Linked DNA regions of Homo sapiens. The protein of the gene in region 4 interacts with the protein of the main gene of each other region in a pairwise test. Each region holds a gene or a part of one and is shown on either strand. Other genes may lie near its edges. The genes, in order: ALKBH7, EFHC1, CNOT2 and CIMIP1.

Region 1 (7,124 bases), on a different chromosome or scaffold from region 4:
GACGGTGAGGATGAGCCCACGCTGGTGCAGAAGGAGCCTGTAGAAGCAGCGCCGGCAGCAGAACCTGTCCCAGCTAGCACCTGAGAGCTGGGCCTCCTCTCCAGAATCATGTGGAGGGGCCAGAGGCCTGCCAGACCCCCAGCTGGGCCCTGCTCACCCCTTGTTGCTGGGCTTGGAGGGGCCTCTTGAGGAACTTTTAATTTGCAGGGGTGCCCGCTATGGACGGGGCATTCCAGCTGAGACACTGTGATTTTAAATTAAATCTTTGTGGTCTTTGCTCTGCGTCTGGGACACCCTCCCTTCTGCACCATGACAGCGTGTACACATCTGTGTTTCACAGGCCCCTTCTGCTTTTGTCCTGACCCCAAGAGGCAAGCCATGTCTTCCTTCAACAGATTCTCCTGATCATATCCTATATTCCAGGCAGTGTTCTTTTGTGAAGAAGACACAAGAAACCCTCCTCAAAAGAGCTCCATTCTTGTGGCAGTAGACAGTTACTAAAAAAAACAAAACAGGCCAGGCGCGCTGGCTCACGCCTGTAATCCCAGCACTTTGGGAGCCCGAGGCAGGCGGATCATGAGGTCAGGAGATCGAGAACATCCTGGCTAACATGGTGAAACCCCATTTCTACTAAAAATACAAAAATTAGCCGAGCGTGGTGCACCTGTAATCCCAGCTACTCCGGAGGCTGAGGCAGAAGAATTGCTTGAACTTAGGAGGTGGAGGTTGCAGTGAGCAGGATCACGCCACTGCCCTTTAGCCTGGGCAACAGAGCAAGGCTCTGTCTCAAAAAAAAAAAAAAACAAAAACAGGAAAGGTGGCATGCAAGTGTGAGGGTAAGCGTGTTACAGTTTTTTATGGGGTAATCAGGGAAGCCCTCACTGAGAAGGTGGTGGTTGAGCAAAGCCTCAAAGGAGGTGAGGGGTGGAGCCTGTGTCCAGGCAGAGGGCACAGCCAGTGCAAAGGCCCTGTGACAGGACTGTACCTGGCATGTGAGGACCTATGAGGAGGCCCGTGGCTGAGGGAAGGTGGAAGAGAGGAGATCAAAAAGTAGAGGTGAAAATTAGCCAGGCGTGATGGTGCACTTGAACCCGGGAGGCAGAGGTTGCAGTGAGCCAAGATCACGCCACTGCACTCCAGCCTGGGCAACAAAGCGAGATTCTGTCTCCAAAAAAAAAAAAGTGGAGGTGATTGAGAATAGATCATAAAAGGCCTGACATCTAAAAGGAGGGATGTGAACCATGGAGGGTTTTGAGAAGAGGAAGGAAAATAAGGATGACTATGACTCCTGAGGAGTGCACCATGAGCAGAAACTGGAGAGCAGTTAGGATAGTTGGAGTAATCTAGACGAAAGCTGATGGCAGCCCTGGCCGAGTGATGAGAAAAAGTCAGATTCTAGCTAGGTGGGATGTGACAGAGAGCAGTTTCCAGAAACTCCGAGCTGATGGCCCAAAGCAGGAAGATGGAGACCTGTCGCCTGAGATGGGAAGTGTAGGCAAAGGAACAGGCTTGGGGAGGGATCAGGAGTTGATTTTGGATATATTATACCTGATGTTTTGATATGTCCCTCGACATCAGGGTCAAGAGGTTGAAATAAAAACGTAGGTGTCATCGGCCGGGCGCGGTGGCTCACGCCTGTAATCCCAGCACTCTGGGAGACCGAGGCGGGCGGATCACGAGGTCAGGAGATCAAGACCATCCTGGCTAACAGTGAAACCCCGTGTCTACTAAAAATACAAAAAATTAGCTGGGCGTGGTGGCAGGCGCCTGTAGTCCCAGCTACTCGGGAGGCTGAGGCGGCAGAATGGCGTGAACCTGGGAAGCGGAGCTTGCAGTGAGCGGAGCTTGCAGTGAGCGGAGATCGCGCCACTGCACTCCAGCCTGGGCGACAAAGCGAGACTCTGTCTCAAAAAAAACAAAATGTAGGCGGCATCAGCATGTAGGCTCATTAACAGTCAGACTGAGACCTGGCTATTGGATTCGGCATTGTGGATGTCACTGGTGGCCTTAAATCAGGCCTTTTCTGGTGCTGTGGGAGCCAAAAGCCAGGCTGGAGTGGATCCAGAAAGGATAGGAGGAAACATATCAGACATAGACAAGTCTTTCGAGGAATTACACTATCAAGGGGAGCAGAGGGTGGGGGGGCAGATGTAGCTGGAGGGAGAAATGGGGTCAATATTTTTCAAAATGCAAGCATTCGGGCCGGGGTCGGGGGGGCGCTACGCTCAGCAGTTACAGTGTTGCAGTTTGCATTATGCACATTTAAAATACATACAAAAGTACCCAGAGCTTTGAGAGGCTGAGGGGAGAGGATCACCTGAGCCCAAGAGTTCCAGGCTGCAGTGAGCTATGATCGTGCCCTTGCACTCCAGCCTGGGCAATAGAGGGAGAAAATAATAAAATAAAGGCCGGGCATGGTGGCTCAGGCCTATAATCCCAGCACTTTGGGAGGCCGAGGCAGACGGGTCACCTGAGATCAGGAGTTTGAGATCAGCCTGGCCAATGTGGTGAAACCCTGTCTCTACTAAAAATACAAAAAATTAGCCGGGCGTGGTGGCAGGCGCCTGTAGTCCCAGCTACTCGGGAGGCTGAGGCAGGAGAATGGTGTGAACCCGGGAGGCAGAGCTTGCAGTGAGCCAAGATCCCGCCACTGCACTTCAGCCTGGGTGACAGAGCGAGACTGTGTGTCAAAAAAAAAAAAACCCAAAAACCAAAAAAATAAAAAACAAAAATTAGTTGGGCGTGGTGGCAGCTTCCCGTAATCCCAGCTACTCGGGAGGCTGAGGCAGGAGAATCGCTTGAACCCGGAAGGCAGAGGTTGCAGTGAGCCAAGACCGCACCATTGCACTCCAGCCTGAGTGACAAGAGCGAAATTCGGTCTCAAAAACAAACAAAACAAAAAAGCTGGGCATGATGGTTCGTTGCCTGTAATCCCAGCTACTCGGGAGGCTGAGGCATGAGAATCACTTAAACCCCAGAGGCAGCGGTTGCAAATCTTCAGGGCCTGAGATCGTGCCACTGCGCTCCAGGTTGGGCGACAGAGTGAGACTCTGTCTCAAAAATAAACAAATAAAAATAAATATAAACAAAAGTAGAGAAAACAGGGTAATGAGACCCCACGTACTTATCACACCAATTCAACAATTAATTCACGGTCAAAGATGATTCTTCCCTACCCGCCCCCTCCCTGCCCCCACAGCCTGGATTTATGTGGAAGCAAATCCCAGAGATCTTTTTTCTGTAAATATTTTTTTTTCAGTTTGCGTTTGTAAAAAACGATGACTCTTTTTTTTTTTTTTGAGACAATGTTTTGCTGTGTCGCCCAGGCTGGAGTGCAGTGGCGGGATCTCTGTTCACTGCAACCTCCGCCTCCTGGGTTCAAGCAATTCTCCTGCCTCAGCCTCCTGAGTCGCTGGGATTACAGGCACGCGCGCCACCAAGCTCGGCTCATTTTTTGTATTTTCAGTAGAGACGGGTTTTCACCATGCTGGCCAGGCTGGTCTCGAACTCCTGACCTCAGGTGATCCACCCGCCTCGGCCTCCCGAAGTGCTGGGATTACAGGCGTGAGCCACCACGCCCGGCCGAGGAATCAAAAAGACAACCATAATGCCATTTTCAAACCTAAAGTAATAGTGATACGGAGACGGGGAAATGAATGATACCTCGCTCTGACCTTTGACCATAAGCCCTAACTCTGGATAGCTGGCCCCACCACACACATAATCGTGGCCTTGACGTCAGTCCCCTGACCCCGGACCCTTATCTCGGCCTGACTGTACTCTGCCCTTAACCTCTAGCCCTAGTCGACTCCATAACCGTGGCCTTGGCCCCAGTCCCCCTGACTTCCGGACTTCAGACCAGATACTGCCCATATCCCCTTATGAAGTCTTGGCCAGGCAACCCCTAGGGTGTACGTTTTCTAATGATTAAAGAGGCGGTGCTAAGCTGCAGACGGACTTGCGACTCAGCCACTGGTGTAAGTCAGGCGGGAGGTGGCGCCCAATAAGCTCAAGAGAGGAGGCGGGTTCTGGAAAAAGGCCAATAGCCTGTGAAGGCGAGTCTAGCAGCAACCAATAGCTATGAGCGAGAGGCGGGACTCTGAGGGAAGTCAATCGCTGCCGCAGGTACCGCCAATGGCTTTTGGCGGGGGCGTTCCCCAACCCTGCCCTCTCTCATGACCCCGCTCCGGGATTATGGCCGGGACTGGGCTGCTGGCGCTGCGGACGCTGCCAGGGCCCAGCTGGGTGCGAGGCTCGGGCCCTTCCGTGCTGAGCCGCCTGCAGGACGCGGCCGTGGTGCGGCCTGGCTTCCTGAGCACGGCAGAGGAGGAGACGCTGAGCCGAGAACTGGAGCCCGAGCTGCGCCGCCGCCGCTACGAATACGATCACTGGGACGCGGTGAGACCGGCAGCGCCGGGGGCGAGGGACGGGGGCTCGTCGGGGGCGCGGCCTGGGGACGTGGAGCATCAGATGGGGCGGGGACACGCTGGGGGCGGTACCTAGAGCGGGGATTTGGAGCGGGGACAGAGGAGACGAGCGCCGGGACCGGGCAGGGCCACACTGGGGGCGGTTACAGTACCGTTTAGCGTGGGGGCGGGGCTACGGTGCTGGGGTTGTGGGGCCAGGGGGGTCGGGCGCAGGGATGGGGCGGGGCCACGCTGGGGCGGGGACAAAGGAGACAGCGCAGGGATGGGGCGGGGGCACTCTGGGGGCGGGACAGGAGGCGAGCGTAGGGACGGGGCGTGGCCACGCTGGGGGCGGGGACAGTGGGGACCAGTGCTGGGATGGGGCGTGGCCACGCTTGGGGGCGGTTACAGCGCAGTCGAGCGTGGGGGTGGGGCCAGGGAGTCGGGTGTAGGGTTGGGGTGCGATTACGCTGCTAGCAGTTACAGTGCAGAAGAACGTGGCGGCTGGGATTGGGGCGTGGTCAGGTCGTCGAGCGCATGGATGGGGCGGGGCCAAGCTTGGGGCGGGGTCCGTGGAGTCAAGCGCCGGGATGGGTTGGGGCCATGCTGTGGGGGGGACGGGGAAGTCGAGGTTTAGAGAGGGCAGAACCACGCTGGGGGCGGAGATAGGGGAGACACATGCTGGGATGGGGCAGGGCCTTTTTGGGGTCGGTAGCTATTGCAGGGATTTGGGAGCTGGGCTATGGTGGGGGCTGGGCTGAAACTCTGGCTGTGGGAGGGGCGGGACCTGGGGGATGAGGACCTTGGGGTCAGGGAGAGCACTTTTGCGACCTGGGACCAAGGTTAGGGGCGGAAACGGATGTGGAGCCAGATGATGTTGAGAGACAGAGACAGGACACTTGGGTGGGGTCAAGTTGTAGGGAGATTCAGCCAATTGAATGCTGGGGCCGGGCCAGCATTGGGGACCTGGAATTGTAGCCTCAGGGTGAGTACTAAGGACTGAGGTCACACCTAGGTAGGGCCATAGTTGAGGGGCTAGGGGAGTTTGAGTTGAGGGCAGGGTCAAGAGTCACATAGGGAAACCAGCCCCTTGCCGTTTTCTGCCCCTCCTTGCCTCAGTTTCCTTGTTCCCTCTGGGAGCTCCCAGGCTTAACCGAGCTCTCTGTGCAGGCCATCCACGGCTTCCGAGAGACAGAGAAGTCGCGCTGGTCAGAAGCCAGCCGGGCCATCCTGCAGCGCGTGCAGGCGGCCGCCTTTGGCCCCGGCCAGACCCTGCTCTCCTCCGTGCACGTGCTGGACCTGGAAGCCCGCGGCTACATCAAGCCCCACGTGGACAGCATCAAGGTGGGCAGAGGACGGTGCCTTGGCACTCCCAGCCAGGGGGTAGGCAGGCCCGGTTAGATCCTGACCCATCCCCACGCCTCTTTTGCAGTTCTGCGGGGCCACCATCGCCGGCCTGTCTCTCCTGTCTCCCAGCGTTATGCGGCTGGTGCACACCCAGGAGCCGGGGGAGTGGCTGGAACTCTTGCTGGAGCCGGGCTCCCTCTACATCCTTAGGTACCTCCATCCAGGCAGCACCCACCCCTCCAAGAATGTGCCATCCGCCCACCCTGTGCCCTGGGTACTTTCCCTCAATCCAGCCCTCCCCGAAGACGCCTTTACCCCAGGGTCTGTGTGGGAGGCAGCAGGGGGCTGGAATCCAGGAGGCTGGAATCCAGGTCTGCCTGGAGCAGGGGCTGCCCTCCTTGCACCCAGTCACAGCCTGTTTCTTCCTGCAGGGGCTCAGCCCGTTATGACTTCTCCCATGAGATCCTTCGGGATGAAGAGTCCTTCTTTGGGGAACGCCGGATTCCCCGGGGCCGGCGCATCTCCGTGATCTGCCGCTCCCTCCCTGAGGGCATGGGGCCAGGGGAGTCTGGACAGCCGCCCCCAGCCTGCTGACCCCCAGCTTTCTACAGACACCAGATTTGTGAATAAAGTTGGGGAATGGACAGCCTAACTGGGACATTGCAGTGGCTGCTTGCTGGGGCCGGGATTTGCAGGGGAACCCAGGATGGCACTGGCCCATAGGGAGCTCCAGGTGTGGCTGGCTGGACACATGGTCAAAGTCACAAGGCCGGGAGAGTGGTGTCCTTTATTGCACTCACTGCTGGTCGCCCCAGCCCACTCCCCTCCTCGTTGTCTCTGCATCCAGGTCTCCAATAAATAAGTCAGCCGAGCTCCCCCAGCACTGCAGCTTCTGGGTGCCAGGCCGGGCACCCTCAGCCACCACAGCCGCAGGCAGCCGCCGAGAGCTGGGGCAGCCGCTGCCAGCGGTGGCGGTCATCGAGGAAGGCCACGTCGGTGTAGCGAGTGGGCCGGCAGCAGGGCCCGCCGTGGGCTCGGCCCTGGCCCTGCAGCCGGGCCAGCGCCAGGCCATGCTGGGTGCGGGCACCACGGGGGCAGCTGCCGGCGCAGTAGCGGAAGATGACCTTCTCCTCTGAGGCGTAGCCCAGGCCTAGCTCTGCCACGGACAGGGTCAGGCTCCACAGCTGGCATGGACCAGACAGGGCTCGGCGCAGGCGGGCAAGGGGGCGGTGGGTGCCTGTGGGAGGGAAGGGCGCTGACAGTGAGCAGGGTCAGGGCTGGGGAAAGTTGGGAAGTCACAGAGGGTCCCTGGAAGTCCTTACCCAGCCAGGTCCCTCCAGCCTTTGCCACCTGTTCAGACGAGAACTCTCC
Region 2 (8,042 bases), on a different chromosome or scaffold from region 4:
TTCCATGTCTTTGCTATTGTGAACAGTGCTGCAATAAACATGAATACAAGTATCTTTTGGATACAACAATTTATTTTCTTTTGGGTATATACCCAATAATGGGATTGGTGTAGTTCTACTTTTGGAGAAATCTCCAAACTGTTTTCCTCAGGGGCTGAACTAGTTCACATTCCCACCAACAGTGATAAGCATTCCCTTTTCTCTGCAAGCTTGCCAACATCTGTTATTTTTTGACTTAATAATAGCCATTCTGACTGGTATGATTGCATCCCTCTGATGATTAGTGATGTTGGGCATTTTTAAAATGTTTGTTGTCCATTTGTATGTTTTCTTTTGAGAAGTGTCTGTTCATGTCCTTTGCCTACTTTTCAATGGGGTTATTTGTTATTTTTCTTGTTGATTTAAGTTCCTTATAGATTCTGGATATTAGACATTTGTCAAATGCATTGTTTCAAATATTTTCTCCCATTCTGTAGGCTGTTTCCTCTGTTGATAGCTTCTTTTGCAATGCACAAGCTCTTTAGTTTAATTAGGTCCCAATTGTCAATTTTTGTTTTCATTACATTTGCTTTTTTTTTCCCCCTGCTCTGAGACAGGGTCTCACTCTGTCGCCCAGGTCTATGATCCATTTGGGGTTAACTTTTATGTATGGTGAGGTAAGGGTTGAAGTTTATTTATTTATTTACTTTTGCATAGGCTATTGAATTGTTCCAGCACCTTTTGTTAAAAAGACAATCATTTCTCCACCAAATTGCTTTTTTACCTTTGTCAAAAATCAAATGACCTCATATGTGTGCATCTATTTCTGGACAATTTGTTCTATTTCATTGATCTGTATGTTGATCTCATCAGATTGTAAAGTCTTTGAGATATGGGGCTTATAGTAGTTTCAGATCTCCATTGCCTAGCATGGTGTTTCCTTCATCTATATGGATGTTCGATTAATATTATTCGAATGACTGAGTGAGCCAACAAAGATGCACAGAAAGTGAGGAAATACATTCAACTTTCTGGAACACTAAAGGTCTAAGGGGTGTTCAAGATTCATCTAACAGGCAAGGGCAAGATCAAACTATGAAAGCCAGTCTGAAGGATAACTAACATATTTAGACTTTCAGAACCTGGTTCCTTGGGTTCAAGAGCTGAGTAGAAAGCTTTTGTTAAGTCAAAAGATGTCCTGTTTTGATATTACCTGCCACCTATTGGTAATATGCAATTGCCCTTGACGAAGAAATAACTTTCTGAATTTCTGATATTTTAACTCCATCCATTATAAATATATAATTTTGATTTATCTTAGCTACTTAAAAGGAGGCCCTGGTTGAGAGGACTTCTGAAAGTTACTCCCATAATTTCCTATTACTGTCTAATACAAACTCTCTGCCTAGCCACCATCTCTTGGGCGCCCCCAAACATGCCATACTTGTTCCTAATTCCCAACTTTTGCTCTTGTTCTTCTTTCTAGTGAGCTCTTTGTTCTCTGCCATTCTAAATCTGAGTCTAATCCCAGCTCTTCCACAAAGACTTCTTTAGTTTTTCAGGCCCACACCTTTGTCCTTCTGACCTCGGTCTGCATGACTTAACTAATTACATAATCAGATAATCTGGTATACTCATGTTATTACTTAACAGCTTTGTGTATTTTATATGCCTTGTCTTCTTAATGACACTAGAAATGACTGAAAGATAGGATTCTAGGAATGGGAGTTACATTTTGTCCTCCATAGCATTTAGCATGTGAAATGGTTCCCATAGCAGATTATTTACCTCTTGTTTAATTGAATTTAATAAAAATCACCCATTGGATAAATGCCTTTGAGAGTCAATTAGACATCATTCTTTTAACACTACCCTTCTAGTTAAAGGAATTATGTAGCTGATGGGAACATAGCCTTTTCTGTACCTCATGACTGATACCTTTTTTCTTTTTTTGAGATGGAGTCTTGCTCTGTTGCCCAGGCTGGAGTGAAGTGGCGCAATCTCCGCTCACTGCAGCCTCTGTCTCCTGGCTTCAAGCAATTCTCCTGCCTCAGCCTCCTAAGTAGCTGGGACTACAGGCACCTGCCACCATGCCCAGGTAATTTTTGTATTTTTTAGTAGAGAGGGGGTTTCACCATGTTGGCCAGACTGGTCTCGAACTCCTGACTTCAGGTGATCCTCCCACCTTGGCCTCCCAAAGTGACGGGATTATAGGCTTCGGCCACAGCGACCAGCCTGTTTCCTACTTTTTAAAAGAACCCTATATATGCCACCAGGCTGCCTCTCCATGCAACTTTGATAAAAAATTTTTAATTGGGAAATTATAGAAGAGGATAATTATATATTAAGTTTTCAATATAGGTCACATTGATAAAGCAGAGACAAACCTGGAATCTGTCATTTAAAGGGATTTAGTTTCAGTGAGACTTTTCATGCCACCCTGAATATATTCCTATCCATTTTCTTTATCTATTGTAAATCTAATGTTTGTTAGCTCCGAACTGCATGGATTTCAGGCTTGTTTAAGCATTCTGAAAGGCCAAAATTACTATATTAGTCCCATTGTCATTGAACTCTAAGACGGTTCTGTAGAGAACTGATTATAAGAATATGTATAGTAGGTAGAAGCCAAACTATGTTGAACTAGGGCACAGATCCAGTTGTTTCTATTTGAGAATACAAGCTGAATTAGCAGTATTTTCATTTTTTTAAAAAAATATATAACATAAACTTTCCTAATTCTAAAATGATGACAATTTTCACTCCCTTTTATCCTTTTCCCCAATCTCATTCTCCTCTCCTCACATGCAATCATTCTAATGCAGCTATGTGACTGAATGTGTCCTACGTGTACTATGTTTTGCATGTGTTATAGCATTATATATCTAATTTCATGTATTTTTTCCTACACAGCACTATGTTTTTAAGATCCATCCACTTGCTTTCTGTGTACATCTTGTTTACTGCTTCTAACTACTGTATATTAATCAAAATGTACCTTCACTACATTTTTGCTTATCCATTCTCTCAATGATGGAAACCTCCAACTCCTTGCCCACAAATAATACTGCATTTTTCATAAAAAAGCACTGTGCAAGTGAAGCAATATGTACAGACACGTTGAATTTAGCCTCAGACTACACATTTATTTATAACCTCTAATGTAGACAAACTTCTTGCTCAATACCTGAAATTTCTTTTTCTTTTTTTTTTTGAGATGGAGTCTCACTCTGTCACCCAGGCTGGAGTGCAGTGGCACGATCTTGGCTCGCCACAACCTCCACCTCCCGGGTTCAAACAATTCTCCTGCCTCAGCCTCCTGAGTAGCTGGGACTACAGGTGCACGCCACCACGCCCAGCTAATTTTTTGTATTTTTAGTAGAGATGGGGTTTCACCATGTTAGCTAGAATGGTCTCGATCTCCTGACTTCATGATCCACCTGCCTTGGCCTCCCAAAGTGCTGGGATTACAGGTGTGAGCCACCGTGCCCAGCCCCAATACCTGAAATTTCTTATATCCTAATTCCCAAAAAATATAGTAAAAAGAAAAAAAAATCAGTGAACACATTTACAGAATCCTGTCAGCCACCCAAACATAAGAGCTATCAGTCATTACATGTGACCAAGATGACATTATTCTAAGAGAAATGTAAAAACTACTAAGACAATAACTAAAGCAAGCCTACTCATCCCAGGAAACAGTGAACAGCAGGTATTTGCTGCCATTTTGTTGCACTGCCACTCTCAAATATGGTAGGTAACTTTTTTTCTTTTTCTGGAGATAGGATCTCACTGTTGCCCAGGCTGGAGTGCAGCACCACAATCACAGCTCACCGCAGCCTCGACCTCCCAGGCTCAGATGATCCTCCCACCTCAGCCTCCCAAGTAGCTGGGAATACAGGTGTGCGGCACCAAGCATGGCTAATTTTTGTATTTTTTGTAGAGAGGAGGTTTCATCACGTTGCCCAGGCTGGTCTCAAACTCTTGGGCTCAAGCAATCCACCCGCCTCAGTCTCCCAAAGTGCTGGGATTACAGGAGTGAGCCATCATGCCCAGCCCATGCTAGGTAATTTTAAACCAGTAAAGAATGAGCTGGGTTTGACACAATGGACCTCACCTCTATGAGTCACAGACATGCCTTTTCCAATCTCAAGTTAAACCACATAGAAACTTCCTGTTTAGGAAGTAGTTGAAGTGAGAAGCAAAGTCAGGAAAGCATATAAAGAAAAGCTAAGCTTTCATTCATATCCTTGAATGAAAACAAGCCTGTTTGAAAAATGCATTAAAAATCTAATATTAAATTGTTTCAGTTCAGAAACCTTGCTCTGCTGCACTTTAAATAAATCTCCCACTGTTGTTTTGGTTTTGTTTCCTTGACCTGGGTACCAGACTGTCTTGGGGGCACGCCTGGACCGAGGGGCAAGTAAAGGAGGAAAGCTGTGGGAAGCCATTTTCTGAGCATCTAAGCAAAAATAGCTAGAGGCTTCCAAGTATAAACGAATTTTGCATACTGATTAAGTAACTCCTTTAAGAACCTAAAAACATCCCAAGTAACAGAGAATAAACTGAATCAAACATACTTGCATTTTCCACCAAAACTTTGGGCACACGCTGGCGGTTCATTAGGAGTGGGAAAGGATCTCTCCCATCATTCCGTTCGTGGACCTCTCGAATTTCCACCGTATCATCCATAAGATAGTAATGAATGATGTAGGTCCGACATTCACCATACATGCTGTCTGTATCATCCCAGATTGCATAGAATCGAAGGACCTTTGAAGAATCCAAAGTAGTGACTCAAGAATCCTAAAAGTAGGGAGTTCAACTTGGCTACTTTGGCAATTATGTATCAACGATGGAAAGACTAGCTGGAAAGACTATGAAGTAATTTCAGATGGGGTAAATTGAAAAAAAAAGAAATATTCATCAAACATACTAAAACATCTGAAATTATGTACTATATGTCAGCAGCTGGAAAGAATTAAATAATAGGATTATAAGTTTGTGCCAAAAAAGAAGAGCTCACTTTGATCCAAAATATTAGTCAGTGAAAGAGAAGCTAAATTAAAAGAGCAATGAAGTTCTTTACATAGTGGTATATATATATTAATAAAGGTACATGTGAATATGGTTTATATATAATTAGTGTAGAAAAAATTTTTATTTATTAACCAGTCTTTTTTTGGTCCCATCAACACATATCTTCTAGCAATAATATAAACACAATCTTTTTTTTTTTTTTTTTGGCTAGGCTTCTTCAAATCGTGGGAATAAACACAATCTTTAAATACAAAATAATAACAGATATATGACTGATATGAACAAAATCCTTAAAAGACCATGCTAGTGCTAGTTTACATTTTCTGAACTAAAAGGGGTTAAATGTCTAAAGAAAAGGAGCAGCAAAGAAGCACTGAGGGTGATCTCTTCCTTTTCTTTCTCCCTTTAGTACAGAAAGGGAAGGATTTAAATCTGCTTATACACATCAGCTCACAAGGGAGAGGATTAGGAAGGTTGGAACAGAGTTGGAAAATGCTCAGAACATTCTGGACTCCAATATTAATATAACATTTAACAAGGAAGCATCTGTAGTGGGGCTTCTGTGAAATTAAACATTTTAACATTACAACCTACATGTATGCATATTTGTGAAATTTCCTAATAATCGATTTATGGTTTCACAAAGGAGTCTATGAAATTAGCTCATTTTAAGGGAAAGAAATTGTCAATTGGAAACGTAAGGTGGGAAGCAGATGTAGCTCAGGAATTGCTTTGAGATTTAAATGTTTGGTGAGGTTCACAAAACAACTCCGCAACTCCACGATCTTCTTTGGATCTCCATATGAAATGTAGGCATTCCTGTACCTGTAACCCTTGATGAAAGCAGAAAGACAGTACTGTGTCCAAACAGTTCAATTATAGCTGTAATGTTTCAAAATAGTTACCAATACAGCTACCCAAACCTTTTGCCAATAAATGTAGGTCACATTTGGAAATAAGTAAGCCTATTGTGGTTCCTATGTCACTTACCTGTTTGTCAAAGGTGAGAAATTGCTTGAGTTGATCAAAGTCTGATGGGGTGACATACTTACGAAGAGGCTGTTTTCGGAGTTCAGTGTAAGGATCAAGAGCCATCTTCTCTGGTGGATTTAACTCAATTCCTTGGCTTTCTAAAAATACCTAAATAATTGAAAGTTAACAATGATCATCTTTCTTGGAGCTTTTCAGAGTAAGTTATAAACTGATTATATAAAAATAAGTGTATGGGCCAGGCACTGTGGCTCAGGCCTACAATCTCAGCACTTTGGGAGGCTGAGGTAGGAGGACTCCTGAAACGCAGGAGTTCACAATCAGCCTGAGCAACATAGTGAGACCCTGTTTCTACAAAAACATTTAAAAGTTAGACTGGTTTGATGGCATTTGCCTGCAGTCCAGGCTACTCAGGAGGCTGAAGTGAGTAGACTGCTTGAGCTCAGGAGGTCAAGGCTGCAGTGAGCCATGATCATGACACTGCACTCCAGCCTGCGTCACAGCAAGACCCCGCCTCAAATAAAGAAAAAAAGAAAGAAAAAGTGTAATAATGATTTCTATGCCATTGCTTAAGTTAAACATTAGTTTGCTGCTTGAGCGCATGTAAGCTGTATTAAGTCTCCAACTGAGCCAACTCCATAATGCAGGTAATAATTGAGAGTTACCTGAAGTATTTTATATTGTTATATTGCTAGGTATTTGCTAAGCTAGTTGGGAGGCACAATGGCAAAATAACTGTTTTCAAATAATTTAAATCAATCAAATTTAGTTAGGTGCCTGTAACAGAGTAAGTCTTAGGATTGCTTACTTTCATATATCTGGAACCTAACCATGGTTTCAAACAATATGTAATTCCTATTAGGTCTGGAGGCAAGATGCACAATGGCCAAGTTAGGCTGAAATCATATTCCCAATTTTCTAATTCACTTAAAACAAATACTGTATATGATTAAGTCCCTTCCCCTCACCAAAAAAGAAAAAAAAGAAAGCATACCCACTGGTTATATTAGACCAGAAAACGTGTTAGCAAAATAGGAAAGACAAACCAAGTGCTCAAATTTCACCAGACATTCCTGAAAGGGACAGTGAGAAAGCAAACAACTTGGAAAACATATTTCAGGATATTGTCCACAAAAACCTCCTCAACCTCGCTAGAGAGGCCAACAATCAAATTAAGGAAATACAAAGAATCCCTGCAAGATTCTATGCAAGGAGATCATCCCCAAGCCACATAATCATCAGATTTTCCAAGGTCAAAATGAAAGAAAGAATGTTAAAAGCAGCTACAGAGAAAGGGCAGGTCACGTACAAAGGGAACCCCATCAGGCTAACACTGGACTTCTCAGCTGAAACCCTATAAGCCAGAAGAGATTGGGGGCCTATATTCAACATTCTTAAAGAAGAAAAATCTTCAACCAAGAATTTCATATCTAGCCAAACTAAGCTTCTTAGCAAAGGAGAAATAAGATCCTTTTCTGATAAGCAAATGCTGACAGAGTTCATTACCACCAGACCTGCCTTACAAGAGATCTTAAAAGGAGCACTAAATATGGAAAGAAAAGGCCATTACCAGCCAATACAAAACACACAAGTACACAGACCAGTGACACTATAAAGCAACCACACAAACAAACCAGCATAATAACCAGCTAACAACACAATGACAGGATCAAATCTACACATATCAACACTAATCTTAATTATAAATGGGCTAAAGGCCCCATTTAAAAGGCACAGAGGCCAGGCATGGTGGCTCATGCCTGTAATCCCAGTACTTTGGGAGGCAGAGGTGGGTGGATCACTTGAGGTCAGGAGTTTAGGACCAGCCTGGCCAACATGGTGAAACCCAGTCTCTGCTAAAAAATACAAAAATTAGCCAGGCATGGTGGTACACACCTGTAATCCCAGCTACTCGGGAGGCTGAGGCAGGAGAATCACTTGAGCCTGGGAGGCAGAGTTTGCAGTGAGCTGAGAGCACGCCACTGCACGCCAACCTGGGTGACAAAGTGAGATTCTGTCTCAAAAACAAACAA
Region 3 (8,042 bases), on a different chromosome or scaffold from region 4:
ACCCGTTTTTTTGTTTTGAATCCCTAAACATGATACGGTTTTCAAATACTATAGATGTGATCTTAAAAAGTCTTTTGTTGGTAAGTCTCCAATGCACAAAACCAAATCTTACTTGAGAAGGTACTCAAAGTATAACTAAAGCAAAGTAGTAATAGTCAAACATGTCTCCAGTTCTATTCATAAACCTAGAACTCTTACCACACAGGTAATCAACTTATTTTATAAAGAGAGGACATATCAACCAAAATTTGCCTGGTGGCGAATCCAAGAACAATCCTTTTCTAACAACCACAACAACAAAATGTTTTAATGTGCTTTCCAAAATCAACCTGATTTTCAAGAAAACGTATCGTTTTGTGATGGGTAACAGAATCTTTGGACATAAATGCATGATGAAACACACTTATTAGAGAGAAGCCACACCTCAAGAACAAAGTGAAAATATGAAAAGGCAAATCTGAGTATACCCAGAAAGACAATTATACACAGTATCAATAAACATCTTACCTGTTCACAGTAAAAGGCTGTCGAGAAGGCTGCTGCTTTGGCATACATATTATGCTTGGCGAGCTTCTGTTGGGGCTACCTAACCCTGAACTGCTCATGCTATTTGTCCTGCTAGGAATTCCAATGCCCTGACCAACCTGGGAGTGGTTCATCATATTCCTAGGATTCATAGGCAAAATACCCCTGAAAAAGAAGTCCATTATACTAAATAAGCTCTCTACAATCACTCATTAAAATTCTCTTTAAATAATCAATTGGTCCAACCCTAGAATCTCAAATATACTTTCAAATTGCAGTTCTAATTTTTATTAATTCTTTAGTCATTCTAGCTCTTTGAAAAGAAAAAGTAAACAAACAATAAAGGGCAAATTATAGTGCAACTGATAAAAGGTGGTATCTAAGATGAGAGAACTACTGGTGTGACTGTGACATAAAATATAAATGTATTTCACACACATATTTAGAATAATTTCATTTCAATGGCATATCGTTCTATCCTCTGCATACTAAATGTATAGTCTATGTCATCTGTTTTACTTTATGCTCATTAGAGCAATGGATGTGTGGCGAGGGAGCAATGATCACAATCATCTGGGGAGGAATTTTAAATTGCACATATTCCTTTGAGGAAGACAGGTGCCTTTTGAAAAAGCTCCCCAGGAAATGATTAACCCTTGATATCCACCCCACTGACAACCAGTATGCGAGCTGCAGTATAAAAACCACTTGTACTGTACTTAACAATTTGCACTGAAATAAAAAGAGCATAGGTATTTTCTTCCTCAGTGAAAGGCACTGAACCAGAAAATCAAGTAATTAATTACCTTATTAAAAAACTAAAAGTTTGTTTACTCTACCAAGATACATTTTGAAAAATATTCTGGTCCATCAATAAATACCTGCTTGGAGATGGAGGCGTGTGAAGTGACATTGTTGGTACCCCTGTTGTTGGCGTGACGTGGCTCGGTAACTGAGTGCCTTGTGATAAGCTGCGATTTAACTGAGGGGTATTGTTGCTCATCCCCCTCATTGGAAGGCCTAGTGCACCTAATAAAAAAATTCAGAAGAAGGAAATTCATTGCCATCAGGAATGAAATTGTTATCCATCTTCTGGAGTTGGCGATTTAAGACACTTTTAATGACCTAACATAGTACGCAAATTTTAAATGGATATATTCGATTCACTCCAAATAAACTCTGATTTTAACAAAAAATATGTTCCAGTCTGAAATTTAATATTATGAATGGATATTTCTTTCATATTCCTATTTTTCATATTTCAATTTCATTATGAAGTATGTAAATGACTAACAAGTTACAATATTATGAATGGATATTGCTCTAAAATTTCTTAAAGGCCTATTTGCATATATGTACATGTGTATATACAAAGAGGCCATTATGAAATTTTGCAGTAATGTGTTTTTATGTCTTTATTCACAACTAATGTATACAGAAAGACATTTAACCCCGCTTTGCTGAAGTAGCTTTAATTTTATGTGATCCTTTAAAATTATATTTTAGAAAAAGCCAATTTACTATTTATACATATTTCTCAACATTACTGTTTTTACAAACCCAACATAAAATGCCAGCAACTGTTAAAAAAAACTCAAACTGATATAGCTATAAAAGACAAAATTTTAAAACATTTAAAAAGACGTCAAAATATAATGCCCCTGTATTTATCTAGTACCCCTGGAGCCAGGTGTGGGGATGGACTATACATTCTAATAGGTTTTTTTTTTTTTAAAGACTGCTAAGAGTTTTATCATTCTCATACGAAACAAACAAACAAAACCACTGTGGATAAACTTTTTTTAGAAATGTATATTTCCTGAGTTTTTATTCAGATCATAGGAATTATAAATTTTTTAATAATCCAGGATAATTATCATAGACAGCATACGTTTATTTTTTTCCCTTTTATGCTTCAAAGTCAAGAAGTACAGCTATCACTTACACTGTTATATCTGTCTACGAATTCCTCTCCCTTTCCTCCATCTTCCTGACCCACACTTTTTAGTGCTTTCTACTTCTAGTCTGCTTCATCAACCAAACTTATTCTGAACTGGAGATTAAATAAAAGTGATAAGATAGAGTGAGAACTAATCAGTAAGTAGATGACTTCAGTGCTAGGGATTTAAGGTGATTTTATCCTTTGGCATAATAATGTTTCACCTTCTAACCTAGGGATAGGAGTGGTTAGCGAGTATCTCACTGATCGTTATCTTAAATTTGGCAGCCTGTATCTCAGCTTGTAGACTAACTGTGCCTCTCAACTGAATGAATTTTAATCCAATCAATCTAATTCAATATAACTAATATATTCCATGTATATACTTTTCACTCAGATTCCATGGAGACCTAAGCTTGGTCCTGCCTTTCTGTAAGATACTTTAAGGGAACTGGCCTAGATTACATGTACACTTTTATGTATGTCTACAGTCACCGTAAGTTTTGTGACTATGAGAATGTCACTAGCTGAAGCCACTTTCTTTGAATCTGGGACAAAATAAGGAAGAATAAGGATTAAAAATCAGCTTGCTTAAGATTTCTTCAGAAGAAATCTGTCTTTTCCCTCCCTAAAGCACACCATTTTTCTTTGAGGCTTTCTAGGTGTGCTCCTAACAAACCATCAACATACTTTTCACATCATTCATTCAACAAACATTTAATGAATGCCTACTATGTAACACGCATTGTGCTAGCTGCTGGGGATATGGCAGTGAACACAACAGAAAAGGCCCCTACCCTCAGGGAGCTTACATTCTACTCCCTAAACATGCTGTCCTGAAGTCAACTATAGCTGCAAATTTTCCTCAGGAATGTGTTTCTCACAGTTACTGACCACCAAGATAATGTCAAACAATTTTAGAGCCGGAAGGGATCTTAAAGATCACCTAGTTCAATGTTCCCATTTTACACACAGGTAAGGAACCTGAGCCTCATGTAAGTTAACTGACTTCTCCACGGCAACACAAAGAACTAGGACTAGAATTTAGATCTCTTAGCTGCTAATGCTCTTTAATAGCAGCATGACAGGAGCCCAACAGAACTCTCGATTAGCACCTCTGTGAGTGCCTACTAATTTCAACACCTCTAATGTATTTTCCCCCTGCTTTCTTTTTCCCTTTTGAATATGTTTCCCTCAACCTTTTTTCTAAATCTCCACGTCTTGCTCTCTTCCATTTTCTTTCTCTCTCATCGTCATACCTATCAGTTTTCTTTCTTCTTGTTCTACTTTTCCTTTACTTTTCACCCTCTCTACACATTCACCACCATAAACAAACATACACTTTCCAAAAATTAGTGCCCTTTTGGCCCCCTTTTAACAATCGTTAAGCCCTACAAAAGGCTCATTGAGATTTGACTCCTTCAAGTCTCCACATACATATTATTCTATGCTGTATCATAAAAATTTATCATTTCAGGAATATTTTAGAAATTGGAAGTTATCTGACCAGCAAAAAAACAAATTTGGAGAAGAAAACAAGAATGGTAAGGCTATTTGGCCAATTAGGGATTGGCATCCTTGAACTGATTTTAGTGCTAAAACTGGACAGAGACCGTATGGAATAAAGTAACTTACTTTCAGTGTTTAATTTTAGCTTTCTAAAATTAATCTTCACAAAAACAGCTAATAAATTCAAAAAGTCTAAGTTTAATTTTGTTGAAGTAGTATAAAAAGATCAAAAAAGAATATATCACTTCAAATTGGATCATCAACCCCTGAATACTTAATAATTGTTACTTTAAATTTATTTTAAAAACTGAATTTCTTTAAAACATAAAGAATGGCACTGGAAAGGTATATATAAAGATTTGTTTTTTGGAAACTAAATATACTAAGTCATTAACTTTGAGTTGCTTGAGTCAAACTAACACAACTGAATAGGGTCAAGGGGAAAAAAATCTAATCTCTCACTAGTATAATTAGAAACAATCACAGAAAAATCATCTCTAAAATATTATGCCAAGAATAGGACATACAGCTGAAAAAAAGAAAAAAAAAGAAAAATGGGAAGAACTCAAGGAGTTTTTCTTGGCATAAAAAAACTAAAACAGGCAAAAATATAAATATGTATAAATGAGCTTGTATATGAGCAGGTGACTGGAAGGACAGTAAAATTAAAATTTATTGGGCACTTATCAACAAAGCACTATACTACTTCCTCTCAATTCCTTCTTATAATCATCTTATAAAAAAGGTTATCACCTTTTTACAAAGAATAAAAACAAATTTTAAAAAAAGTTTAAAAGGTTATAATTTTGAGTCAAATTTTTCTTTCAATCTAACAATTGATAATAACAACACAATATTAGGAGGACTATACGAACACATTCTAAATAGATTCCTACCTCTTATCTGGCAGGGTGTTAGTCAAATTCCTTATTGATCATTTTTCAGAAACCCTTAAAGAATATGATCTAAGAAATTATTCCATTAATTATTTCCACTGCACAAACTGATTAACAGCACATCACTTAAACACTTATGGCAAAATACGTCATTCTTTATTCAATTTTTTGCTAGAAATAAAAAATATTAAGTTACATGAAAAAATAAAATCATAGCAACCAAATCCCTGAATATTCATACTTAAATAAAGTCCCCTAAAATCTTTATAGGGGCAGGAGAGAGTAGTCCTTAACTGATGCCTTAAAGTGTCCCCTTTTCCATTTGCAAAGCAGCCAGCTTCCTCTAGGAACTCACTGGCATGCCCATACTAAAAAGGACAACATAAATGGTGCTTTATCTCAATGGCTTCTTACCTTCAACCTGTCTTGCACTTAGCTGGTTAATGATTCCTGTAAAATTATTTCCTTATGCAATTTTCTTCATTAAATTCAAAGTATTTTAGAATAGAAAAGACTCCAGAGATTATCCAAGTAGGTTACAGATAAAGAATTCACACTAGGCATTAAGTGACTTGCTCAAGATCACAAGTAATGAGGCATTAAAGACAATGATCCAATTTCTTGACTCCTATTTCAATGCCTTTTTTGCAACCAATATCATTTTCCATTTTTTAATGGTAGTTAATAATGTTTGCATCATCCAGGGAACTTTAATGTCTAGGTCTCCTCTCCAGCAATTGTGATTTTGGGCAATCATGGCAGTGGAATTTTAAAAATTCCCCAGGTGTTTCCATGGGTGCAGTCAGGGTTGAGAACCACTGTTCTAGAGTATTAAAATTCTGTCAAGACCCAAAGATGTTTTCTAACCTTAACAAGCATTTTACTCTGTTTACACACTACATATCTGATTTATAATCTTCTTTCTTCTTTCTCTATTCCTTTCCTCAAATCTGTCCTTTACTACTCATATCTAACTCCTCAGCAAGAATACTTTCCCTTCTCTTGTTCTAGAGATATAAAAGACTACTTAAAAATAAATAAGTGCTATGACCAAGGTGTTTACATGCAGTAGACATAGCGTGCTTGACTGCTTGTAGGAGGGACCACACTAACTCAGACTTGGGAATAGAGTGAGTCTGGAAGCAGAAAAATTTTCCTGGAGGAGACAGAAGATAGTATATGAATTAAATAACATATGAGACTCAGCCAGGTGTTTGGTGGTGGCAGTGGTGGGGAGTCAGGTGGGTATAAATGTTACAATAGTTCAGTCTGAGAGAATGACGAGATATATGAAAATGAGGACAAGTTATACACCTGGCGGAGGAACAGGCTTTGCCTTCTAGGTGCTAAGAATGTATAAGACAAGAAACATGGATGGAGCTAAGTGGCTTCCACAACTATGAGAAGTGGCTGCTGTGCTCGAATCAGCTGAGAGTCTCAACATCTGGCTGGATCTTTAGAGGAGTGCCACAGAATCTTTACCTGTGGAATAGCTGTGTGGATCTCCCAAGTACACTCTACACTTCCTCAACCTAAATTTCTGCTCTAGATTAGTGGCACTCATTCACAAAGGTTTGCAGGTCGGAAACCTTAGAAATCATTCTTGATCCCTTTCTTTCACTCCTACATCATCAAGTCCTGTTAGCTCTATCTACAAAATGTACCAAATCTGATCACTTCTCAACACCTCCACTAGTCCAAGTCATCCCATTTTTTTTTGCCTGGACTACTGCAGTATTACTAACATTCTCTCTCTCTCTCTCCATAAAAACAGGACATTTGTTATTTGCTATATTCTTATCTATATCTTGAAATAATACCTCATTCATTGTAGGCACCCAATAAATACATAATTATTAGAATGAATACATTCTATCACAATGTCTTAATTCAACAGATTCTTGGCACCTGTGGATTTAACACTGGTAGTTTCTACTATGTACAAATGGCTTTCTAGGGTCATGGCATTCAGGTATCAAAGAAACTGATGTTTTCAGCTCATGTTCACATAGTTACTCTTACAAAGTAATATAATCCTGGTTCTACTACTTACAATCTGTGTAACCTTGAACAAATTCCTTAAACTCTTGTGGAGCTGCTGTGAAGGTTAAATGAGTTAATTCACATAAATACTTAAAATCGCATCTGATACACAGTAGATAATATTCAATAAATATTAGCTCTGTGTGTGTGTGTGTGCGTGTGTCATACTTATGAAAAGAAAGCCAACAGGTGGTACCAAAAGTGAAGATAAAATAAGATAGTCTAATCAAGTGATGGTTTTCACACACACAAAAAGGATGTTTTATGGTGGAAAATGTTATTCTATAGCTGTGTTCTTGAACTTTAAAAGTAGCAATGATCTTGAAATAAATCTCTCAGAAATGTGAAGACTGTACTTCTTGCTGAAATCAATATAACAGCCTAACAGGTGTCTCCTGTCTTGATAAAGTAGGCCATTCCTAAATCTATCCCATGCTGTGGATGTTATTCCCACTGCTAAAACAACTTTACTCACAGTCTGTTCAATGCTAATCTCAAATATAATCTCATCAGTAAATTCTTTTCCTAATCATTTTCCAAGATACCTGATTACTCCTGTCTTTGAAATATCCAAATAGTCTACAGCCGTACCATCCTGAATGTGCCCTATCTCATCTGAAACATCCAAATAACCTCGAACTTCTTATTCTACTACATAGTAAAATCATTTGTGTACTTATCCTACTAGATTATATGAGACTGCTTCTTGTTCATCATGCATTCAAGATTTACTGAGTGCTTGTCATATGCGAGGTACAGAGGATACAAAGGCAATGAGGACATGCAATAAATAATGCAGCAACACCATAGCAGTAGGTACACTATGCAGAGATGGCATAAATGAGGATGATCTCTTCTACCACACATCTGCAGTATCTAGAATGGCACAACATGTATGGTAGGGACCCATAAGTATTTGTCAACTTTAATTCCTACCTGCTTTTTGAAGTTTTTCCATACCACTATAGCTTCCCTTTTTTTTTGGTTCTCCTCAAGGAGAATGGTATAGACAGAATTTGCTCCCTAAAAGTCTGTCTACACCATTCTGCACATGGTATCTTTTAATCTATGTGTTAGCATCACAGGCTGTTATTTAATATTTTACATATAAATATGTCCTATCTTCCCCA
Region 4 (8,179 bases):
AAAAAAATCATAAAATAAAAAAGAAAGCTGTTTAAGCTTAAAAACTAAAAAAGAAGCGGTTGGCTCCAGTTGTCGACATGTTTTATAAAGCAACAGCAAAATGAAAAAAATAAAAAATAAACTGTCCCAGAGAACTGAGAGAGGGCCAAAAATATTAATACACGGGAACATGGCGAACCTTCTACAAGCTGTAAATATTTTCCTAGTTTCCCACGTGTAGTCAGCAAGTACGGCAGTTCTTTTTCTCTCTCCACTCTTCCTGTTGGAAATCTATGTGGAATAACAATTTTGCCAGAAAAAAAAAATATATTAGGTTGAAGAAATTGTGTCTGCCAGGGACTCATGAATTGGTTTCATATATCAGAGGGAGGGGGTTTCAACCCCCAGAGCGAGGAAAATGGAGGAGGATATACAAAACAAAGAAAAAGACCACCAGAGCTTAAAACTAAAAATAGAGTTTGATGTATGTGAATGTCTTAACTTGCCGAGCATGGGGCACGGACCAGTGAAGAAACTCACTGAGGGTGGGGTGGCACCGAAGGTTCAAGATGCCCAGATCAATTTGAATCGAGTGATTTCTCAGTAGAAGTACAGTACACCCCCATGCAAACTTGAGTTTAACTGGGCATCCTGTATTTTTATTTGCTGAATCGGGCCATACCGCTGAGTGGGAGAGGCATTTCAGTGGTTGGAAGAGGGGCTCCTGGTGGTTCTGCTAACGAAGGATTGATAACGCACATCCTGATTGGACAGAGCGAGCTTGTGGGTCCGTTCATAGTTGGTTGAAACAAGGAAGGAGTCTCAGGGGAGACCCAGGAGGTGGGCGTCTCAGGGTGTCTAAGTCTGCGTGTCAGCTGTAGTGACATATGGCAGGTTCTATGTGACCCCAACAGTGCTGCCAAAAGGGGAAACTTTGCCTTTTACAGACACCACCTCAGAAAAAGCTGGACCTGCACTGCTTCCTCAACCCTCACGTACTGCTGAGATTCACAGCCATGCTTCAGCCTTGAAAGTCATCTCGGAAGATAAAGCCATCTTCCCTGGTTACGAGAGAGAGGAAGACTCAGAAATGTCTGCTCCCCATCTTCCTCAGGAGTTCTGCCCCTAGGAAGGAAGGAAGAAGAGCTGCCCTCCAAGGCCAGGGTTCCTCACTGAGCCAGTTCTCCCTTCTGCAAAATGGTCACAAAGCCCTCTGCAAGGGGTTGCTGTGACCATCTGTATGAGATCATTCTCACATTGCTACAAAGAAATCCCTGAGACTGGGTAATTTATAAAGAAAAGAGGTTTCATTGGCTCAGTTTTGCAGGCTGTACAAGAAGTATAATGCTGGCATCTGCTTGGCTTCTGGGGAGGCCTCAGGAAGCTGCAATCACAGCAGAAGGCAAAGGGGAAGTAAGTACATCACAGACCAGATCAGGAGCAAGGGCCGGGGGAGGGGCCACACACTTTTAAACAACCAGATCTCGCGGGAACTCACTCGTGATCGCAATGACAATACCCAGGGGAAGGTGCCAAACCATTCATGAGAAATTCACCCCCATGATCCAATTACCTCCTATCAGGCCCCACCTCCAACACTGGGGATTAGAATTCAACATAAGACTTGCAGGGAATACAGATCCAGACCATCTCACCATCAAATCAGAGCATGCAGGGAAGTGCCCCACGGGGGCTGGGGAATGCTGGTGCCCTGAGGGTGACCAGGACAGCCTCAGACTCAGGGCAGAGCCCAGAGGAGCAGTCCCTGGTGAGTGCAGCTCTGGGTCCTCTCTCACCTCTTGAGAAAGGGGAACCCAGCCTTCCCTGGGGACAGCCTCCAGCCACCGGCCATCCACAGCCTCTCCTTCAACACTGTCATCCTCAAGAAGCAAACCCCACTTCCACCCAAAGCCACATTTCCATCTCCCCACGCCTTCCCCCAAATCGTAGTGTCTTAGATTGAGGGAACTGCCTGCACGCTGACAACAAATGTGATAAACCAGGAGTGAAGCCCTCCATTGTTTGGGAGCCCCGCTGTCAGGCTCCCGCAGAGCTCTCTGCCTTTGCTCCTCTCAGCCTCTGCAGATCCCTAAAATTGGGAGGTGTAGTCATGATCCCCTTTTCCAGATGAGGAAATGGGGGCTCAGAGTTGTTAAGCAATATGCACAAGGTCACTGAGATGGCACACAGCAAACCCGAGACCTGAGCTACGTCGGATCCCAAAACCCAGACATTTATCCGGTACTCTACCCATTTCTAGTCCTGGACCCAGGCTACCCCGTGCAGATATTGCCAAGGAGAATGGAGAAGACTAGCAAACTCTTATTCATCCTTGAAAACCCAACTCACTCATCACCTCCTCTGTCCTCTTCTGTCTCATCTGGGGCTGGCTCTGAATCACATATACCCTATGTCATTTCGTATATAAGGCTGCGTTATCATTTAGTTGCATTCACATCTGCTTACCTGCTAGATTGAACTCCTGGGGGACGCATAGTGCCTGCTTCTCCATTTCTGCACCCATTTCATTTCCATGGAACCCTCCAGCTGCACCGGCCCCCTTTGCATTCTTCAAACACCCCATGCTGCTCCTGCCTCGGGAACTATACTCCACACCACCCGCTCTGTGGGAAATTCTTCTGATCTTCCACACCAGATCTGCACCCACATGTCTCCTCCTCAGAGAGACCTGCCCTGACCGCCTGTTTAACACAGCCCCACAGCCCCTGGCCTGTCCCTGCCCCCACTGGCCTCATGCCCTGGTGTGACTCTCTTCCTAGCACGTCATGCCTCTCTCCCTGGCACCAGGTCACACGTGCATTTGTTTCCTGGCTTCATTATCTGTCTTCCCACTCGATGTGCCAGCTCCAGGGAAGCAGAGACCTTGCAGGTCTGACTCCCTCCTGGCACCAGACACATCAAAAGCTCTCAACACACGTCCATAGGATGAAGGAACCCTCGATGTCTGGCACTGTTAATGAATTTAGTCTTAATTAATCATCTTAACAGAAATGTCTCAAAACCTCCCAAGGAGGAAAGCAGAATTTGTTCTTACTACATAATGGATCTTTCTTCCTAGCCATCCACTTATTTCCTCCCAGAATATCTTCCCCTCTGTTGTAAGAATGGAGACCTTGGAGAACAGTCCAGGAAGAAAATCCCAGCTTCCTGCCTAGAGATCTGTCCACCCTCTTGCTAGCCCACTAGCTTGCAGTTGGCTCAGCCGTGGACCTGGGATGTTATATATTCATTAATTAATCAATTCAGCTCCGATGCCAGCCTCTGCTTGCCCACTCACTAATCCAGCTGAGGGACAGTTGGGACCACCCTAATACTGGGCGTGGGCCAGGCATTTCCAACAGCCAAGAAAAGCACCATGTGCTATGAAGGGAAAACACACTAGCTGAGCTCCCCTCTAAACACCACACATAAGTACAAATCTGTTGATAAGGGAAGAGGCCATGGAGATGGACTAGGGAGAGTCTCAGATACCTAACTGGTGGATACACACACTGGCATCCTCCCAGACCAGTGCCCTGGTAATTATCTAGGAGGTGACCTGTAGCTCAACTGAGTCATGCTTCCTCCTCTCTCAGTCCCCCGAGGCAGGCTCTGGACACCTGCTCATCTCATGGCTGCTCAGCCAGAAAAATGTCCTCCTACATCGTGTAGATGATCCCCTTGCTGTTGTCTCAGAGCCATTTTCCAGCTCTGGGTCCACAACAATGGGGGTATGGTAGAAACCTAGGGGGTCAATGAATCAGTCAAAAAACACTGGCTGAGCACCCCAGCGATAGAGTGATTACTGCCTATAGGCAGGGAAAAAGAGTGTGGGGTGGTGGGGTCTGGAGGTAACATTATCCGTGAATTTCATTTAGGGATTGTTACAAAGAGTGGACGCCAACCAAAACGCATATTTTCTCCAAAGACATGTGCAGTAATATTTTAGCAGCACTTTTGTGGTGGCCAAAAACTCAATGCAACGCCCATCAGCAAATACTGTTCAGGAGCAGAAATGGACGCTAGGGCCACTCACAGCAACGGGGATGCTCTCTCAATCATGACACTGGGCAAAGGCAGCCAGGCACAAAGGAGAACATCTGGATGGTTCCACTCACACAAAGTTCAAATCACAGCAAAGCTAATCTTTGCAGAGGGAAGTCAATGAGAGCCAGGGAGGACGGTGACCCTGGGGGCCACTGGGGGAGGCTGGCAATGCTTTGTTTTCTAATCTCCAGGTGACGGTTACAGGCGAGTCCTCTCTTTGACATACTCAATTAAGCTCTGTACACTTGAGCGTCTGTCCACTCGTAGGTGTGCATACTTCCACTGCGGATTTAAACTTTCAAAGAAGTCTAGGGTGTTAGGTCTGGAGGTTTCCCCAAGGTTTTCCACAGATGAGCAAATGGGCCTAGAGGTGGACAAAGGGCCCAGACGTGAGCAAAGGATGGCAGCAAGCCCGGACCCAAGCGACGCGGCGAAAGCACAGCGACCCCACCCTCGCCAGGTGCAGAGCCATTTCCGCCTCCGAGTCCTGCGTTGCCTGGCAACCGGTCTCCCAGGAGACGCGAGACGCTGAGCCCAGGGCCAGAGCTTGCGGGGCGCACAGAGCCCCCAGGCCTCATGGCGCAGAAACCTCTCAGCACCGCGGCGGCTGAACGCATGAACCTTGTGGGTCAGGATGAGATCTGGTAACGCCTGGGATCGGGCAACGCGGTGGGCTCCTGTTCTCACCTGAAGTGTCCACATCTGGGGTCTCAGTTTCCCCACCAAGTCCGGGAAGTGATCGACCACTAAACTCGAGGGGCAGAGGGGCGTGCGCTGAGGATGGTCAGGGGCCTTGAGGAAAGGGGTCAATGTTAGGGACATGAGAGCGACAGGAGGGCCTTTCTCCGTCTCCTTCTCCCTCTCCTGTTGGGCCCACCACGAAGACGTGGGAGATTGGCTTTCAACAATCAGCAGAGATTGGCTTGTTGAAATCCAACTAACATGTTCATGTTTTTTTTTTTTCTTCAAATCTCAGCATCCAACCAGAACGTGTTCATGTTTTTAAGACTGATGATTTTTGTTTGTTTGTTTGTTTGTTTTTTGAGATGGAGTCCTGCTCTATCCTCCAGGCTGGAGTGCAGTGGCGCGATCTCGGCTCACTGCAACCTCTGCCTCCTGGGTTCAAGCAATTCTCTGCCTCAGCTTCCCGAGTAGCTGGGATTACAGGCGCCCACCACCACACCCGGCTAATGTTTTTGTATTTTTAGTAGAGACGGGCTTTCACCATCTTGGCCAGGCAGGTCTTGAATTCCTGACGTCGTGATCCACCCGCCTCGGCCTCCCAAAGTGTTAGGATTGCATGCGTGAGTCACCGCGCCTGGCCAAATTTTTTTTTAAAAAAAGAAAGCAAAAATCCTAATATTTGTTAAATTTGAATGAAGTACATGAAAATCCCTTGATTCTCCTGGGTTTTTAAGTAATATATTTTAACTTTAAAGATACATCCATTTTCTAAAAGATGTATGTCTAGCAGACATTTGTCGTGGATATTTTAATTGGCATGCTATCTGCTACGTATTATTGCATCTCTTTGAAAGTTTAACTCATATGGGAATTTACAGATTTAGATATAAGTAAGTTGTAGTAACAATAAAACATACTTGTTTACCTTCTAAACTTCAGTTATCCTATTTACCCTCTCTATAATTTTTACCATTTCCTTGTAAAACCTCTATTAGTCACTTCATATGTGTCTTTAAATTGTTTTCACTTGATGATTTTATGGAAAACTTCATATCACTCTCATAAATAGAAAACCTTTATCATTTGGCATAAAATACACAACTATTTTTTACTAAATCTTTATCCAAGTGTCCCAATAGGAGATGCTGCCACAGCAGGATCTGTTCCCTCTGTCTGAAATGCCCCTTCCTCTCTTCTTCACCATACAAACTTCTGCTCATCCTTCAAGACCCAAATCTAAGTGACCCCTCCTCTTTGAATAGGGCCCTTGGCTACCTAACACTTAAATTGTAACTGGTCCAAATTGGGTTCAGCCGTTAAGTGTAAACTGCGTGACAAATTACGATGATTTATTTAAAAAAAAAAAAGATTATTTAAGTGACTGTCAGCCGGATGCAGTGGCTCACACCTGTAATCCCAGCACTTTGGGAGGCCGAGGCCAGGAGTTGAAGACCAGCCTGGCCAACATGGTGAAACCCCATCTCTACTAAAAATACAAAATTATCCAGGCATGGTGGCACACACCTGTAATCCCAGCTACTCAGGAGGCTGAGGCAGGAGAATTGCTTGAACCCAGGAGGCGGAGGTTGCAGTGAACCTAGATTGTGCCATCGCACTCCATCCTAGGCAAAAAAAAGGCGAAACTCCATCAAAAAAAAAAAAAAAAAAAAAAAGACTGTCACCTGTTTATTCTTATGTTCTTTTTAATGTAGTTACTAGAACATTTCAAATTGTGTATGCAGCTCATGTTTGTGGCTTATGTTACATCTTGATTGAAATAGACTCTGCCTTAGATGCTCACTGCCCAGGGCAAAGAGTTGACCAGGGTCTCCGAAACTGTGGGGTAGGGATATGCTGATATTGATTCCAAGATAGAAGAAACTAGAAAACTCAAAACGATTGAATGTTTAATTTGATGTTTGCAAAATGTGGCACGTGGGCTCGTCTACTGCAATGCCACTCAGCTCATGGGTAGTTAGATATAAACAATATTAGCATGGAGCAAAAGCAAGGTCGGATTAGGGTGGGGCAAGTGAGGCACTTGCGCTGCAATATTTAGGAAATGCTCCACGTCAAGGTCATGCAGACGCTGTCTCTGCACTTGCAGGAAGCAGGGAGTGAGTGCCTCCTCCACTTTTGCACCTCCTCAAATTTTGAGTCATAAGGGCCTCCAAAATAAGAGATCTGGTACCTAGAAGGCTCCTCAGGCAGAATCGGCCCCCAGACTGGCCCTTACCCGGCATTCCCTCTCAGCCGTAACAGCCAACCAGCATCTCTCTTTCGTTAGCCACGTGTCTCCCTTGCTGGTGGGAGGTGCTCAGCATCAGAGGTTCTCACGCTGTCTGGCTCCTCACTCCGTCCCTGGTGCAGAACCACTGCCCAGTCAATGTTCGTGGAGAATGGAAATGTCCCCCACAGACCCCTTGAACCTTTTTCCGTGTTGCCCAGCACTCAGGAACTTTCTTTTTCAGGAAATACCGTCTGAAGGCTGAATCGGAAGCACGGCAGAACTGGCCCCAGAACTGGGGGTTTTTAACAACCCCTTTTGAGGAGGTAAATATAAATTGTATGAGCCCCAAGGTTACAGAATCAATCATTTCAAAGAATGAATGATTACAAAGTCTATCACTTGCAAGAATAAAACTAAAGAGCATGTTGTAGGCAAAGATCACTAACTCCTAAACCAGAAGGTTCCCGCCTTTCACAGATTCCTGGGCACTGACCACATGCCAGGCATGTTCTAGGTGCTTCGGCAGAACCAGATGATCAAATCTGGACAAGAACCCCGGTGCAGAGACAGGTGTTGTTTTATGCCCATTTACAAATTAGGAAATTGAGCTCCAAGACCTGCAAAGTCACACAACTGATAAGGACCCTACTCAGGTGAGAAGCAGGTGGGTCTGATGCCACAGCCACCTGACCTCAGACTTCCCATCTGTAAAGTGGGATGAGAGTCCTCACCTGCCTAACTGAGCGACTGTGAGGTGCAGATACAAGAAGGCTATGGACACCTCACCTGGCCTGGAGGCCAAGTGACATATGAGGGATTCTTGGGAAAATGCTGTCGGTATTCCCTAAAGATGACAAGTCCAGAAGTCTACAGGGACCAGCTAGGTGACAGAAACAGGAGACAGGGCCAAGCATAATTAATCAGAAGGGGTGGAGACTCAGGCAAAGAGGCCACTGGTCCTGTCCAAAGAGGCAGCCAGCATGAGCCCAGCCAAGTGAAACCATATGGGAAAGCCAACTGCATATTCCCATCACTCAAGAGAGTCCAGAAAGCCAGATGTTTACATGAAATTTTCTGAGTCTAGAAATGAAATGCTTATGTGGGTTCTGGTGGGGTGGTGGCCACCAATCTGCAACCTCTCAAACTTCAGGACAGAACACAAGAGATGCAGAATTAATTAAAACACCACATCAGTCAAAGTATCTATGATTCACAGCAGTGTAAAGCCCATTTGTAATT

The links.
Region 1: the proteins of CIMIP1 (region 4) and ALKBH7 interact in binary tests that used the Homo sapiens proteins (3 or more experiments, as listed by UniProt).
Region 2: the proteins of CIMIP1 (region 4) and EFHC1 interact in binary tests that used the Homo sapiens proteins (3 or more experiments, as listed by UniProt).
Region 3: the proteins of CIMIP1 (region 4) and CNOT2 interact in binary tests that used the Homo sapiens proteins (3 or more experiments, as listed by UniProt).

What each region holds. Positions count from the first base shown.
Region 1 is NC_000019.10:6,368,627-6,375,750, forward strand, and holds ALKBH7 (alpha-ketoglutarate-dependent dioxygenase alkB homolog 7, mitochondrial precursor), read left to right. Parts: upstream 1-4,167; 5' UTR 4,168-4,194; coding exon 4,195-4,398; intron 4,399-5,178; exon of another isoform or gene 5,179-5,265; coding exon of another isoform or gene 5,266-5,391; intron 5,392-5,576; coding exon 5,577-5,750; intron 5,751-5,838; coding exon 5,839-5,963; intron 5,964-6,184; coding exon 6,185-6,347; 3' UTR 6,348-6,624; downstream 6,625-7,124. Other genes in the region: CLPP (ATP-dependent Clp protease proteolytic subunit, mitochondrial), read left to right, coding at 1-84; PSPN (persephin preproprotein), read right to left, coding at 6,668-6,990, 7,076-7,124.
Region 2 is NC_000006.12:52,450,805-52,458,846, reverse strand, and holds part of EFHC1 (EF-hand domain-containing protein 1), read right to left. Parts: intron 6,160-8,042; coding exon 6,010-6,159; exon of another isoform or gene 4,753-6,009; coding exon 4,560-4,752; intron 1-4,559. UniProt on the Homo sapiens protein: Microtubule inner protein (MIP) part of the dynein-decorated doublet microtubules (DMTs) in cilia axoneme, which is required for motile cilia beating.
Region 3 is NC_000012.12:70,322,935-70,330,976, reverse strand, and holds part of CNOT2 (CCR4-NOT transcription complex subunit 2), read right to left. Parts: intron 1,555-8,042; coding exon 1,407-1,554; intron 691-1,406; coding exon 508-690; intron 1-507. UniProt on the Homo sapiens protein: Component of the CCR4-NOT complex which is one of the major cellular mRNA deadenylases and is linked to various cellular processes including bulk mRNA degradation, miRNA-mediated repression, translational repression during translational initiation and general transcription regulation.
Region 4 is NC_000020.11:58,146,363-58,154,541, forward strand, and holds the start of CIMIP1 (ciliary microtubule inner protein 1), read left to right. Parts: upstream 1-4,539; 5' UTR 4,540-4,602; coding exon 4,603-4,670; intron 4,671-7,181; coding exon 7,182-7,263; intron 7,264-8,179.